Linked DNA regions of Homo sapiens: region 1 is linked to region 2. The links come from fine-mapping of genetic effects on gene expression. Tissue or cell type: lung. Region 2 holds a variant in brackets; the other region holds the start of a gene. All regions are shown on one strand. Distances are from middle to middle.

The links. PIP is the estimated chance that this variant, and not a neighbour inherited with it, causes the effect.
Region 1: ATP8A2 starts here. The variant in region 2 is fine-mapped to the expression of ATP8A2 in lung (GTEx, PIP above 0.99).

What each region holds. Positions count from the first base shown.
Region 1 is chr13:25,367,981-25,376,123 of GRCh38, forward strand. It overlaps ATP8A2 (ATPase phospholipid transporting 8A2), which reads left to right and starts at 3,994. Exons shown (of 37, transcript NM_016529.6): 1 at 3,994-4,308. The coding sequence starts at 4,233.
Region 2 is chr13:26,009,533-26,017,675 of GRCh38, forward strand. ATP8A2 (ATPase phospholipid transporting 8A2) reads left to right here. Exons shown (of 37, transcript NM_016529.6): 36 at 2,999-3,090. Among named protein-coding and RNA genes, the nearest start is that of SHISA2, 38 kb to the right of the region's middle. RefSeq lists enhancers at 2,328-2,828, 2,829-3,329. The variant C/A (reference allele first, on the strand shown) is at 3,651.

The sequences.
Region 1 (8,143 bases), 640 kb before region 2:
CGGATCCTTTGCCCAATGCTGTCGGGGTGTCTCTTTTAGTTGTTAGTTTTTAGATAATAATCAAGAGAGAGGAAAGAGATCCTATGAAGATACTGGTCTGCGGACAGAGGGAAAGGAAAGGGATTAGGGGTGAGTACACAAATGGCTTTCAACAGGCCTATACTGCTTTGTTTCCTAAACAGGAGAACAGGTACAAGGATGATTGGTACATGCTTACGTATAATTTTTAACATGCTACTTATATGCCATTTTCTTTTTAAAGTGTTTATGTAGACAGATGCGGTGGCTCATGTCTGTAATCCCAGCACTTGGGGAAGGTGAGGCAGGAGGATGGTTTGAGTTCAGGAATTTGAGACCAGCCTGGGCAACATGGTGAAATCCTGTCTCTACAAAAAATACAAAAAGTAGCTGGGTGTGGTGGCACGTGCCTGTGGTCCCAGCTATTTGGGAGGCTAATGGAGGAGAATTGCTTGAGCCTAGGAGGTTGAGGCTTCAGTTAGCCATGTTCACACCAGTATACTCCATCCTGGGCAAAAGGGTGAGACTCTGTCTCAAATAAAAAAGTGATAAAATGTTTACACATATATACATATATGTATACAGATATAAAAGGTAAAGACGCACACATAAGCATTTTAAAAAGGAAATGGGGCTTTTTTAGTTTGAGGAAAAGAAGGGCTTAAGAGATGGCTTGAAGTCTTCGTTTGTATAAAAGAACTTCTTGAGAAGGATGCCAACTGACTGTTTTCTAGGACCATGAAGACTAAAAAGGAAGGATAGGCTTAAGTTAAAATAGTAGAAATTTAAGATGTTCAGAGGACAAACTGCTTCAAAACACTAGTTCTTGAACACTGGAGTGGGCTGCCAAGAGAAGCGATCTGGCCTCTCCTTCCTTGGGAATCACCGGGAAAGGGAGAGGCAGCCTCTGTGCCGTCACAGCACTGGAGGGTCGGATCCTCTCCTGGGAGATCAGTCTGTCTTGGCTCAACTTATTGCATAAGGAGAGGGGCACACAGAATAATGAGAGGATGACGACAGCTGCCTTTCAGGGAAAGAAAAAGAATTCTCCCTTTCCCTTCACTTCCTCCTCCAGGAGGAAAGGGCTGCTCTGGCTTAGTTAAGTTCAATGACACTCATCGACCCACAGTGCTAGGGACTTGGTGTGGCTCCTACTGGGGGCTGCAGGCTGCCTTTCTACCTGTCTTGTGAACGCGTAGGGTCGTGGCTCTAAGAATTGAGGCAAACTCTCTTTGTTGAGGAGTTCTTGCTTTCACAGACAGAGCACATTTCCCTGACTGTCCTGGTTGCGGTGCCTTTTGCGTTTGCTGTTTCTCCTCACAGGCTTCTTTATCTCCTTTGGTTCTAACCTAGGCTGCCTCTGGCAAGGGTGAAAGGATGTCTCCAAGCCAAGCCTGGGTCACAGGGTGATCCACATCGGCACTGGATTCTAAGCATAATAATAAATACTGTCCATTTGCTAGCTTTTGTCCTTTGTGCATATATTTCCCTTGAAGACCTCAGAGATGGGATTTAGGTCTGACTCTGGCCAATGCCAACCTACTGATCTCCCCAACATTCCAAGAGGCAGTCAGATCAGGGGAATTAACCAAGACATCAAAGAGACAACACAAGTTGCTGTGAAATATTCACCTACTGCTCCTTGCAGTCTATGCTGTGATCTTCAAGGTGCACCAACTGAGGTATATTTCACACACCTACAAAGCTGTCAGGGCAGTTTGGTTATTGGAAGATAAACATAGAAAGAGCAGCAACAACTCTGTTTCATGATGGGGCTGCACAAAGTCAGGGTGGGACATTTGGTCACTCTTCAGTGATCAAGGCAAATATTCTATATATAACATACTCTGCTTCTTAAAAATTAAAAATAACCTTTATCTACTCTTTCTATTCCCACCTAAGTCAGAGCAAAAAAACCCAAAATGTTTTCTATTTATCTTGAAGTTTGGGGATTGAAAAAAACCACATTTTCCTTTTAAGTTCCTTTCAATTCTGGTTAGGTCCTCAAGGTGTTATCATAGACAGAAGATTTACTGAAGCATAGTGACAAGTTTTTGACAAATCCAGTCCTAGGATTAGCCCCAGCTTTAAGATTTATCCTCAGCAGCAATGAAGATCCACTGAGAAAACCTCTCCCACTCTGAAGCTTAGCTCAACAATTTAGAAAATTTTATTTTGATTCATCTTCCTGATAAAGATTCATTTCTTATCAGAAAAATTTTTTGAGGGCCCAGAAGAGACAGGTAAAGAATCCTACCTGAAGCTACATTTAGTGTAGATTCTTGCCAGCCTGCAGTTTTCAGTGTAAGTTGCCTGTCCCTTTGGATGTTGTTTTTTGTTTTGTCTTGTTTTGTTTTTGGTGGAGTCTTACTCTGGCACCCAGGCTGGAGTGCAGTGACATGATTTCCGCTCACTGCAACCTCCACCTCCTGGGTTCAAGCGATTCTCCTGCCTCAGCCTCCCGAGTAGCTGGGACTACAGGCACCTGCCACCACACCCGGCGATTTTTTTTTTGTATTTTTAGTAGAGACGGGGTTTCACCGCGGTAGCCAGGATGGTCTCCATCTCCTGACCTCATGATCTGACCGCCTTTGCCTCCCAAAGTGCTGGGATTACAGGCGTGAGCCACCACGCGCGGCCTGGATGTTTGTTCTTAAGAAAATTAGAAGCAGAGGCCGGGGGTGGTGGCTCACGCTTGTAATCCCAGCACTTTGGGAGGCCGAGGCAGGTGGATCGCCTGAGGTCAGGAGTTCGAGACCAGCTTGGCCAACTTAGTGAAACCCCGTCTCTACTAAAAATACAAAAATTAGCTGGGCGTGGTGGTGGGCGCCTGTAATCCCAGCTACTCGGGAGGCTGAGACACAAGAATCACTTGAACCCGGGCGACGGAGGTTGCAGTGGGCCGAGATAGCGCCATTGCACTCCAGCCTGGGCAACAAGAGCAAAACTCTGTCAAAGAAAAAAAAAAAGTAAAAGAAAATAAAATCAGATGCAGAGGCCAGGCAGGAGGAGCTCAGGCCGCACTGCTGTCTTTGCTAGCACAGATTCTTTTTGCTGAACTCTGTACTACTCCTTGTCAGTCCCTAATGTTAATTTAGGTTAAAAGAAATGTAATGCTCGCATCAGTAAAAGCAAGGTCAGACTTTCACCTGAACAGTTTTATTTTTGTTTTGTTCCGTTTTTACTCCGAGGTCAGAATGTCATCAGGCACAATAAAGATAGCTTCTTATCTTCATGGGATTGTGCCCAGAAAGACCAAGCACAGTCTAAACATTACGCGATAAGAAAAAACAAAAAATAGATCAAGTGACCTTGGACAAGTCATCTTACCTCTCGATGGTTTTGTTTTATGAAAGAAGGTGTGTGTGTGTGTGTGTCGATGGGTGTGTGTGTGTGTGTGTCGATGGGTCTGTGTGTGTGTGTGTGTGTGTCGATGGGTGTGTGTGTGTGTGTGTGTGCGTGCGGGGGTTGAGAAGGTTGCTGTTAAGGTTCCCTAGGGCTACCTGCAGCTTTAATATGCGTAGTTAGAATGTCAGGCAGGTTGTGGAGAGTGGGGGGCTGGAGACCCCCGACTTCTCTGAGTGCCAAGCCACACATCAGACACCTTGGAAATAACCCTTCCACGAAGTCCCTACACAGATCCCACCAGGCTGGGCACGGAAGAACAGAAACTGCGAAAAGAAAGGGACTGGATGAGTCCTGGGGAATCACAGCGCCTCCACTTGCACAGGACAAGTGACAGGCAGGTAAATAGGTAGCAGACAGGCAGAGACTCCGAGTCCCCCAGGTGCACCCCTCTCCTGGAAGAGCCCCCGAAAGTACAGGCCCAATCTCCCACCCCACCAAGCCCTCCCCATCGCCTTCCCCGACACCTAAAAGCCCCGGTCCTGCGTAATATTGCGGATCCCTCCCAGCCTCCCGTCCGCTCCTCCTCCCGCGGGGCTCCGCTCAGGGCCGGTCCCCCGCCCCCACGCCGCAGCCCGGGCCAGCGGGGCCCGCCGCGGTGGCGTTCGCGGATGCTGCCGCATTGGCCGCTGCGGCACGGACGGCGCAGCCTCGGGCGCGGCCCGGCACAGGCGCCGGCGGTCCCCGCCAGCTAGCAGCCCGGCGAGGCGCTGGCCCACCCATGGTCCTCGGGCGGCGGCCCCTGCGCCCAGCCCTGCGCGTAGCCTCCGTCTCTCGCCCGGGGCCGCCGAGCCCCCGACACGGGCGAGATGCTGAACGGCGCAGGCCTGGACAAAGCTCTTAAGATGTCCCTGCCGCGGAGGTCGAGGATCCGCTCGTCCGTGGGTGAGCTGGGAGGGGCGCGGCGAGGGAGGGTGGGCCCGGGGCGGGGGCGGCGCGGGGCGCGCCTGCGGTTATGCGACACTGCCCCGCCCGCGCCCCGCTCCCCTCCCTGGGCTCCCTGGGCTCTCTGGGCTGCAGGATCCGCCGACGCGGCGCGCTGGCCGCACGGGGGCTGGGCGTCGCTGCACCTGCGGGGCCAAAAGGCTCCAGGCCGGGGCGAGGTGAGCGGCGGGCGTCAGAGACCCCCGGCTCGTCCCTGTACAGATGTGTGTGTGTGTGTGCGGCCTCCCTGTGCGCGTGCCCGTGCGCCCCTACGCGCGGATGCGGCTCAGGGATGCGACCTAGGCGGCAGTCACCGCGATGGTGGGCACGGTTTGGCGGCGCAGAGAAGATGCAGCCTTCCCTGCCGGCGGCCGGCACCGCTGTGCTGCAGAGCTCAAAAGCAGAGGGGGAAAAAGGCATCCGAAGGGTCCCTCGAGTGATTCTCACCACTTGGAGCCCCGGGTCCTCGCGCGCTCACAGCGGCGACGTACTGGCTCATAACCATCCGTGCATACAACCATCTGGAGACGAACACACACACGCACACGCGCGCGCACACACACACACAGGTACACACACACGTACACACGCACGCGTACACATACCCTGCCTGCAGGCGCCTGGGTGTTGGAACTCGAAACCTAAAGCCAAACACGCATGTACCATACCCGACCACTCACACTGTTAGAGGCCCGCGTTCTATGATTATAGAACACATTTAGAAACTATGATGTCGTGGAGCTGGATGTTATGTGGCTATGACACTTGATAGGGTTACCTAGACCATTAGTTAATGCAGACGTAAAGAGGAGCCCCAAAAATGATTTCTTACCGTTTCAGGACTGCGGCAAGTTTGCAGGTAGATCTTTGACATGAGGAAGGTAGAGGGTGTACAGTTTGGAGCTGGGGTCACTTGTCTTCGTGCTTTTTTATTTGTTTTGAGAAAATAGGCACATAAAAATAAGCGACTTTTGTATTTCTGTAGTTGAGTAACGTGAGAGGGAAGCAAGCTTATCAGGTAATTTAAGCCAATGTTTGTTAAACTTGGGTAAAGTCAGGACACTTTCACATTCATTTTGAGGAGAATCCCAGCCTGAAGGGGTCACGGGGTGCAGGGTCAAGACTAAATAGCAGGGAAGAGCTGTGGCAGAGAGACAGTGGGAGGGCGCAGTCATACAGGTGTGAGAATTTCCCAAGGTGGAGGCAGCCTGAGGAGACCTGGGGACACCCTCTGTACCTTTGCAGGTGGGGCCAAAGGCATTTGCTTATGATTTGGATGTGGGGCTTCAGTACAAGAAAAGAATCAAAGATGCCCCCAAGGGTTTTGGTCTGAGACACCGGAAGAATGCACCCCTTGCTGAGATGGGGAAACTGCGGAGGACCAGGGTTCTCTTTTGCGGTAAGGGAGGGTGTGAAGAATTTGGTCTGAAATGCCTACCATAGATCCAAGAGGAGATGATTAGTAGAGAGCTGGATTTATGAGTCTGGGGCTCCGGGGAGTGTGCAAGGCCAGACATAGAGATTCAAGAGTCGTCGGCAGGACCGGCTCCAAGAGTGTATGCCCTGCAGCTGCTCAGAGTCTGGCTCTTACAAGAGTCAGCACTTGCTTGGATGTTCTGCCCAGTGTTGCTGTCTTGAAAGTCTTAATTTTTGAACAAGGGGCCCACCTTTTCATTTTACACGGGCCCCTAAGAATTATGTGATCAGCTGTCAATGTGTACAGATGTGACTTAGAAAAGAGGGGTCCTTGGATAGAGTCCTGGGCACTCTAACATTTTGAGGTTAGGGAGATGAGGGTCAACAGAAGGGGCCTGAGAGGATGGCCAGGGAGGTCCCCGGAAACCCGGAGGGAGTGCTCTGAAACTCAGTGTGGAGATGTTCAGGAAGGGGTGGGGTGTACCTGTGCCCAGTGCTGCTGAGCTCAATAAAGATGAGGCTGGAGAACTGTCATGTAAGTGGAGGTCACTGGTGATCTTGAAAAGAGCTGTTAACATATCATTGTGGGGAAGAACGCCTAATAGAGCAGGTGTAAGAGTAACAGGACAGGAACTGGAAACAGCAAGTCCGGAAAACTCTTTTGAGTGAATATTGCAGAAAAGGCAGGGGGAGAAGCAGATCGAGTGGTAGCTGGAGGAAAATGTGAGTTCAAGAGAGGTCGCTTTGTTTTGAGACTGTTCTACAGTCTGACGGCATGAACATCAACGCAGGAAGCTTTTAGGGAGCAGGGGGGAAGGCAGTGATCTGAGAGTAACCGTGAGAAGCAGGGTCCTCCTGGCAGAGCAGTTAAGGCAAGAAGTTTCAGGAATAGTCAGAGGGGTCGGGTTGTGAGGGATCTTGCTGATGATAGGCTGAAAGTTCCAGGAGACAGAGTGGAGGCTCTGAGATGGGGCCTGTTTAGGGTATTTGCATAATGTATGGAGAAGAAAGAGGATCTGCATAGTGTGGGCTCCTGGGGACACTGATGGAAACAGGGGCAGAGGGCCTGACAATCGTGTACTCCCATAAAAATACTAAACAAAGATGTGTGATTTTTAGTGAAGTCTGCTACTTCTCATTATTAAAAAATAAACTAATGATGAAAGGATTGCAGATCACAGTCAGCTTCAAGAGTATATGCTGAGCTGTATACTATTTTTAAAAATAATTCTGGAATATTTTCTTGTCTGAGCCATCTTTGACTCTTATCTTGTTCTGCATATTCAATTGCACTTTGATCAGTTTTAGCTTTCCCCAAATATCTACTTGGTGCCAGTGTGTCTCATTTTACCAAATGATGAAAATCCAAAGATTTGTGACCATGGGGATCCTCTTGCCCGTATAGTGCTTACAGTCTGCTCAGGGTGGAGCCCCTTAGAATGGAAACAAAGTCAGTGACAAATATATATCAGTGCCTTCTATGTGCCCGGCATGGTTCTAGGTGCTAGAGACAGAGCAGGGAACACAGCAGTGTGTCTCACAGAGCTTATGGTCTAGGCAGTGACTACAGTGCACGTGGGAAGAGCTCTCAACTCTCTTCTCTCACCTTGACCCAGATGAGTAAGGAAATTAAGGGTGTACATGTGAATATGGGTGTTGGGGGTTGTGGGAGGGGAGGAGTGGGGACAGAAAGGAAGGAAGTTGTTTTCTATGGACGACAGCATCAGTGCTGTCTATGGCAGAAGCTCTTCCCTATCTTACCGCATTTCTGGACTTAGTGAAAGAACGGGCAGGCAGGAAGTGCACAGACCAAGTGCAGAACCCAGAGGACTACAAATATTCTTTTTTTTTTTTTATTTTGAGCCTGTCGTCAGGCTGGAGTGCAGTGGTGTGATCTCGGCTCACTGCAACCTCCGCCTCCCGGGTTCAAGCAATTCTGCTGCCTCAGCCTCCCAAGTAGCTGGGATTATAGGCTCCCACCACCACACTCAGCTAATTTTTGTATTTTTAGTAGATACGGGGTTTCACCATGTTGGCCAGGATTGTCTCGATCTCTTAACCTCGTGATCCACCCACCTCGACCTCCCTAAGTGCTGGGATTACAGGCGTGAGCCACCGTTTGGACCAGGACTACAAACCTTCTAGAAACTGCCCCTGGAGCCCTCCTCTAAATTCCACACCCAACTCACCCTGCCCTCTGCTGGTCATCAAAGGTATTTTTTAATGTGTGTTTTCTGTTTTTGCCAGAACAACCTGCCCCAAGTTTCAAGGAGGAGAATCAGGGCAGCTGAAAATACAAGCCGTGCTAATGTGAGAATGTAATAGCTGGAGGATATCTCAGAGATGGTCTGATCCCTTCACTTTACAAATGAAAAAAAAA
Region 2 (8,143 bases):
GCTATATGGTCTACTTTTAGGGGGATGGAGCTCAGGATGGAGTCAAGTTAGCCTTGGATGGAGGCCTGGGTGGTCATTGAGCAGGGACTTCTAGGGTCCCAAATAACTGAGGTGGTGGATGGCAGGCCTGGGCCATGGGAGGGTGTACCTCCTTGGCTGTGGACCCCTCACAGTGTGTGGAGGAAGGGCTGCGGCACAGAGTGGGTCCCTCTGAAGCAAGAAGTCACATTTTTAAATAATATCTCATTATAGGCTGAGCACAGTGGCTCATGCCTGTAATGCCAGCACTTTCGGAGGCTGAAGTGGGCGGATCACCTGAGGTCAGGAGTTCAAGACCAGTCTGGCCAACATGGCAAAACCCCATCGCTACTAAAAATACAAAAATTAGCCAGGCCTGGTGGCAAGTGCCTGTAATCCCAGCTACTCAGGAGGCTGAGGCAGGAGAATCGCTTGAACCTAGTAGGCAGAGGCTGCAGTGAGCCGAGATTGCGCCACTGCACTCCAGCCTGGGCAACAAGCAAGACTCTGTCTCAAAAACAAAAAGAAAAAAATTAATTATAAAAAAAGAAGACAGAGAAAAGCATTCACCACTCTAGGCGGCATCTAGGCGGCGTCTGCCAGCACAGGAGCCCTGCCAGCAAAGCCCCATCTGACCTTTGTCAAGTTATTTGACACAGCTGAGTCTGTTTTCTCACCTGCCTGGTGAGAGGCCAACATGTATAATTTCAATGATCCCTCCCATTTCTGAGGATCTGTGACATTCTCATAAGCCCCATCATGAGGAGGAGCTTCTGGGATGGCCAGGGTGGTTCAGGAGGCATGTCCCTGTGGTCCAGGGGCATGGGGGCAGAGCCTAGTCCTGCATGGTCTCCAGCTTCTGAGAAAATAATGTGTCAGTTGCCCATTATGTCCCCATGTGGGGCCTGGCTGGTGAGGCTACCCTGGGGCCAGGCAGGGTGAGGGGCCCCCTCTGCACACAGTGCCCTTTATTTTGTGCAGGAGTCATGGCCAGTGCTGGGCACGTGTTGGACAGGGAGGACAGGCCCTTCTTTATACCTGCCACATTCTGAAACCAGGCAGCACAGGGAGCTGTGGACAGTCGGTGATGGCAGCTACACAGAGGGACAGGTGCCACGGGCTCACTCCTCCTGTGTTTGCACAACCATGCCTTCCAGGGCAATTGCTCAGCCAGACCCGGTGAGATTAATTTGGCCCATGGAAGAAAGAGGAGACGGGAGGGAGGACCAGTGTGAAAGGATGGAGAAAGTATTTTTCTTCCTCAGCCATGAGACGTTTTGCCAAGCTTAGCTAGCTGAGGCTCACCCTTAATTGGGAATGAATTAAACATTGTTATTTCAACCAAGGCACTCAGAAATGCCCTCTCCTGGAAATTCAAAATGAACTTCAGCTCAAAGAACTGTGAAGAAGAGCCAGGGCCCCACTCCTCTTTCGATGGCCCTGAGGGAGCTAGGTGGGTCTGCAGTCATGGGAGGGGCCTCCTCAGGCTCCAGGCTCACTGATCGATCGGGGGCAGGGTACATGGGATTCAAGCACCTGCAGCTTCTTCTACAACTCCGTATCCCCTCACGTTCCCACAAACGTAAGGGGGGTCTGTATTTGTCTGCCTGGGCTGCCGCAATAAAGTGCCATAGGCTGTGTGGCTTAAACAGCAGAAATTGAGTTTGTCACAGTCTGGAGGCTGGAAGTCCATACTCGAGCTACTTACAGATTGGTTTCTCATGCGAGCACTCTCCTTGGCTTACAGGTGGCTGTGTGCTCTGTGGTCTTCCCTCCGTGTATGCCTGTGTCCTCATCTCCTCTTCTTATTAGGACAGCAGCCATGCTGGATTAGGGCCCACCCTGATGACCTCATTTCACCTTAATTACCACTTTAAAGGCCCTGTTTCCAAATACAGTCCCATTCTGAGGTACTAGGGGTAAAGACTTCAACATGTGAATTTAGAGGGGACACCATTCAGCCCATAATCTATTATGCCTCTAGGTCACTGGCAAACTCCTGTAATGACAAGCGAAATGAGAGCCTGATAGTAAAAATCAAAGCACTTTGACCTGCCTGGGCAGTTTTCAAGCAGTCCCTTTGGGCTTATAGAAATAAACAGACTGGGCATGGTGGCTCACACCTGTAATCCTAGCACTTTGGGAGGCCGAGGCAGGAGGATCACTTGAAGCCAGGAGTTTGAGACCAGCTTGGGCAGCAAAGCAAGGCCCTGTCTCTGCAAAAAATGTTTAAAATTAGCCAGGTGTGGTGATGCACACCTGGGGTCCCAGCTACTCAGGAGGCTGAGGTGGGAGAGTTGCTTGAGCCCAGGAGTTCGAGGCTGCAGTGAGCTATGATTGTGCCACTGCACTCCAGTCTGGACGACAGTGAGACCCCATCTTTTTAAAAAAATAAAATAGTATAGAAATAGCCAAGCTCCAGAACAGTTCCACATGTCTTCACAGCAGTGGCAACCTTGAAGGGAATAGGTTCAGGAAAGGCAGGGACTGCTCCTTAGCCGTCTGTTTTAGAAGAAAACTCGCCTTGATGTTCATTGGGGTTCAAAATAATCAAGTTCTGCAGAACGAAGCTGGGCTGTGGCTGGGGTCCTGAGGCCTCCGCGGGGCTCTCACCCCGTGCAGGCAGGGGGCTGCAGGCAGGAGTGAGGCGCGGAGATGTTTACCCGGAAACAGGCCTCTCCTTGGAGAAGTGTCCTGAAAAGCCCACGGTCCCGCGGGTATGGACCGGGCACATGCACACTTCAGCGAGCAGGAAGCGCTGGCTAAGGGAGGGACTGGAAACGGCGTTTTCCACAACAGGGAGCCAGCATTGAGGCGCCCAGATGGCATCTGCTGGAAATCACGGGCCGCTGGTGAAGCACCACGCCTTACCCGACGTGGGGAGGTGATCCCCCACCTCATCCCACCCCCTTCTGTCTGTCTCCTTGTGCAACCCGAGTGTTCAGGTGACAAGAGACTGACGCGCTTGCTTTATCCGCAGGCTGAACGAGCGCGACCGCCTGATCAAGAGGCTGGGCCGGAAGACGCCCCCGACGCTGTTCCGGGGCAGCTCCCTGCAGCAGGGCGTCCCGCGTGAGTACCGCGGGCGGGGGCTGATGGAGGAGTGGGTGTCGGTGCGGGGCGGGGGTTGATGAGGAGTTGGGGGAGCGGGCGCTGATGGGGGGCCGGGTGAGTGCTGACGGGGGGTGGGGGCGGGGCGTGCGTTTGGAAGTGGAACTGCAAAATGTGTATTTGGCCCCAGGAACGTGCAGCTTGAGTGTAGGCAATTCCCTGGGACCACAAAATCCGTAAACTTAAAATCCTGGTGTGGTTATGATCCTTCCGTCAGCCTCCCAAGAGGAGTTTTTTAAGGTTGAAGCAGTATGACTTTTAAACTGTTGCCCCTAAAGATAGCAATATGAACTGTTTTGTGTAGTGTTGCCATATTGATTGAAACAATGACCATCATTGGGGAAAAACATCATGCTTCTCCCAGGAAGGCTGCCCCACGTCTAAGCCTGGCGTCCCCCTGCCACCCCCGCCCCCACCTCCAGATTCCAGAGGAGAGTGGGAGGCTGTGAAACATCCCCTCTCCACTGCCCCCGACTTTGGAGCTCAGGGGGAGCTCATGGGCTTGTTTTTAGCAATCCAGT[C/A]ATCAGATCCCAGCTGAGGCAGATCCAGGCCACCTTCCCCAGGGCCAAGGCCAACCCAGCCCTGCCTCTCTGTGTCCTGCGGCCTTCCCCAGCCCCCTCTCCACCCCCATCACGTGCACACGCCAGCTTTTCCTCCCATACTTACTCCCTGCCTCCCTTTCCCTTCCGGAGGAGTTTAGAGGGAAACGACTGGTAGAAAGAGATGAGTTGGGCCGGACGCGGTGGCTCACGCCTGTAATCCTAGAACTTTCGGAGGCTGAGGTGAGTGGATCACTTGAGGTCAGGGGTTGGAGACCAGCCTGACCGACATGGTGAAACCTCGTCTCTACTAAAAATACAAAATTAGCTGGGCGTGACGGCACATGCCTGTAATCCCAGCTACTTGGGAGGCTGAGGCAGGAGAATCACTTGAACCTAGGAAGCGGAGGTTGCAGCGAGCCGAGGTCATGCCATTGCACTCCAGCCTGGGCAACAAGAGCGAAACTTGGTCTCAAAAAAAAAAAAAAAGAAAGAAAGAAAGAGACAGATTTATGAACGTGAAGAATCATTGTTCACACAGTACAGGCAGTGAAGGATCTGTGTTCTGTTGAGCTCTGCCTGTCAACAGGTATTTGCAGACTTTCTCAATGGAGAGAGAAGGAGGGAGACAGAGTATCATTGCTTTTCAGTAATCTACCCCCTGTCCTCACTTTCCCATGTGGAATATCGTATGGGAAGAAGGGGACTGACATGCTTCTGTCCTTTAATGCTCCACTGCCCTGGGAGGTGGGTAATGCCACCCCAAGGACACAAAGCAGAGGCTCAGGTCAGAAAGTGGGTGGCCCAGCATTGCTCAGTGGCATGCCATGAGGTCTGGATTGCAGCCTCAGACTCTGGCCCAAAAGAGAGGTAAGTCAAGAAGTTTGATGGGACAGGAGTGCTAACTGTAGGGCAGCCCTCTGGAGATGGGCTGCCTGGGTTCCTGTCCCTGCTCCCCTGCTTTTTCGTGACCTTGGGCATGTTACTTAATGTCTGCTTCTGCATCTGTAAAGTTGGGTAATATGAGAACTTACTGGATGCCAGAGGTTCAGTGTAGGTCCTGCCACCCACAGCTGCACAGAAAGCCAATCACTGAAACAACAATTATAGCCAAGGAAGAAGGCTTTATCTGGTGCTATAGCCAAGGAGGTGGCAGATTAGTCTTAAATCCATATCCTTGACTGACTAAAATTAGGGGTTTATATAGCAGGGAAGAAATGTTAACAATGTGTAAGAAAACAGGAATCAGTAGGGGTAAGGAAGCAATCAAGATGAATGAGGGGCTTAGCATCTCGTTGTCTGGATGAGATCATTGGGTGAGTTTCAGATCTTTGCTACTTTTCGAGAGGCCTGTGGGTCCCTACCTAAGGAAGGAACTCAGATAAAACAAATACAAATGTCAAGCTTTAAGACCAGAAGGGTCATTTCTATGTTAAAAAAACAAAAAAACAAAAACAAAACTGTCTATGGGACTATTGGGTTGGTTTCAATTAGGAGGATTAAATGAGATCATAAAGATAAAGTGTCTATATAGGCAATATAGGGTCCAATAAATGTTGGGTATTATTATTCTGCCATTAGCTGAATAATTTTGGGAAACTTAATTTCTCTAAATTTTTATTTTCTCCTGTGGAGAAAAAAGAATTTTAATGATATACATCTTACACAGTCCTGTGAGTCTTCATGACAGCATGTGTAAAGCACCTTCTGTATGCCAGACACAGAGAAAACACATACAGGTTCCCAGAACTCTACAGGGTCTGTTCTGTTGAGCCGTGTTGCCTCTCTGATGAATGTTTCAAAATAACCATAGACAGAATATACACGATATATATGTTGTGATCAAAGACCGAATGAGAATTTTTATGGGAGAGTCATAAATGTCTTAAAGACAACTACTAAATGCTTTTCTTAAGTCAATATTTTGAAGGCCAAAAAAAAATCTACTGAATAAATATAAGAAATAAGAAGGCTTCTGAAATCACACCACATTTTTTAAACATTCAGTGACTAGTACCAGAACCTGATGGATAACTTAGGACGTTTCTGTCACTAACAGCCAGAGAAGATCGTCGGGTGGTCAGAGCTGGTCCTGGGGTGCAGGATGGGCATATAGCAGGTCTCAGCCTTTGATGTTCCGCCTGGGTCTGTCCAGGAAACTAGCAGGAAAAACTCTAATCTTGGTAGTATTTTAGTTCCTGTGAGCCACCAACATACAATATTTGTAATCAGCATTTCCTACACAGTCTGATTTCCTCTTTGTCCCCATGGTCTTCTCATTTCTATGGCTATTAGGAATCTTTCCAGACAGGAAACTGCTATTTTCATTAAGATGCTATCAGAGCACAGATTCAAAGGAATGCTACTTAAGGGGAGTTTTATTCCAAAATAATGAAAAAAAAAGACATAATTTTATGGATTTCACCAAATGTTCTACCCGGAGAAGACAAAACAACTAAGAAATCCGTCTTTCCTCCCACCTCCTTTCACCTACACGATTCTGTTCTCCATTCTGGCTGTGGCTGTTTAAGAAAGCAGATGCTTTAGGAAGCCAGCCAGGGAAAGTTCAGTTAGTTGGGTCCATGAGAGCTCCCTCCAGGCCCCCATCAGGACTTTTCTGGCTGTTAGGACTTCCTGAAACATGAGTGAAAGTAGGGAGTGCAAAGAGCTGGAGGCTTCCTCCGAGCTCCCCGTTTGGATGCAAATGACAGTTAAAGGTTCATTAGGCAGAGCTGGGGAGCAGGTCTGTATCTTCATCCGGTGGGACAGAGGCTGGGCAGGCAGGACTGGTTGAGGGGTGATGGTGTCTGGTTTTCCAGTAAAACTCCTCCCATGACAGCTCTAACTCCCGCCAGGCCTGGTTTCTAAGAGGAAAATGTTTAATCTGAAATTTTATCTGAACATGGGAGGACTCCCTCTCCCAAGATAAACCTATCAGGCCATTCTCCTTTCACTCTTGAATTGTAGAGTCCACTTTCATTCTCGGTTAAGGTTAAGAAAGTCTTAGCGTACAACACGCTGGAAATGTGGTGGTAGGTGCAGCCAATGGGAACTAGGGAGGATGGTGGGAGACATTTAGCACAGACCTCACGTTGCTCTACTTACCCTGGGAGGTTTACAACAGGAGGGGCAACTCTTCTCTGCCTGTCTCTTCAAAGGGAAACCTCGAAACCCTTCCCATCCCAGAGGGGCCAAATCATCCCGCTGCAATCCCATGGGAGGCCCTTGTGGCCATGGCACTAATGCACACAGAAGAAGTGACAGAGTTATGAGCTGAAGAAACCCCCGGAGTTGGGTTTCCAGTAGACACAGGCATGTTATGGAAAACAAGATAAATAAAAGAAAAGGCTTTTGCACCTTCCATTTGAACAGGGAGTAGACTATTCCAAAGGCTAAGATACCTTTCCCGAAAGGACACTCCCTAATTTATTTTTATGTCTCCATGAGTTCCCCCCAACCAGGAGAAAAAAGCAGGCCAAAAGAGGTATAATAGGTAGTTAATTATTCTTTTTGGATGGACTGTTGACACCGACCCTTTCTTTTCTGACGTGGATGCAGAGGCCTCCGTGTTGGTGCAGTGTGAACTAGCACTGACAGAGGGAGAGAATCCTGCAGCCTGGGTGTGACGGGCCATGAACATGTCCTGGAGCCCATAGAGAGGACTGGAGGTTGAGAGAACTTGGGCCTTGCCTGGTCCAGGCCATTTAATTTACAGAAAAGTACATCAAGACCCAGGGAGCTTAAAGATCCCAAAGTCACATGGACAAGTAGCAGCAAGCAAGGACTAGAACCACCCTTTGTTTCCTGGCCACCACCCTGACCCCATGCTGCAGCCACTTGGGGCCACCAGAATCTAAGATGAAAACAAGCGAGTGGAGAAAGACATCTTCAGGGTGGAGAGCTCAGTAGTCCTCAGCTTCCCACCGGAAGAGTTTATAAAAGAGTATGTCCCATTCTTTGGGGTGACTGTTCTTTACTCAGAACCACTTCTGTAGGACTGAGGAGCAGCCCCGGGAGTGGTGCAGCAGCTGTGGAGCCAGTGACGACCCTGCCATTGCAGCTGCTGTTCTGCCAGGCCCCCTCAGGATGACTTCAGATGTGGACTAGAAACGTTCCTTGTTAAAGAACTGGAGAATGGAAATTGTCCAAGTTGACCACAGTACATAGCCTTGTTACTGGAGCAGACGAAGCAGTGTTATTTGCTAGATTTTGCTTTGAAACATCCCAAGGAAAGACGTCTCCTCTTGGACTGCAGTAAAAATGCTTCATAAAGGGCAGCTTGTACAGGATTGGGGATGAGAGTGTGTGTGCCACACGGTGCCAGAGGGAGGCAGGAGGCTGGGGCAGCTCCTCCAAAGCTGGGCAACGGAGGTTTCCTTGTCCCTGCTGCTAATCTCTGATTAAGCAACTTGGTGAAAATCCAAAAGCTCTTAGGAGAACAGGAGTGGTGGCATTTGCTCTTCGGTGCTTGAAAG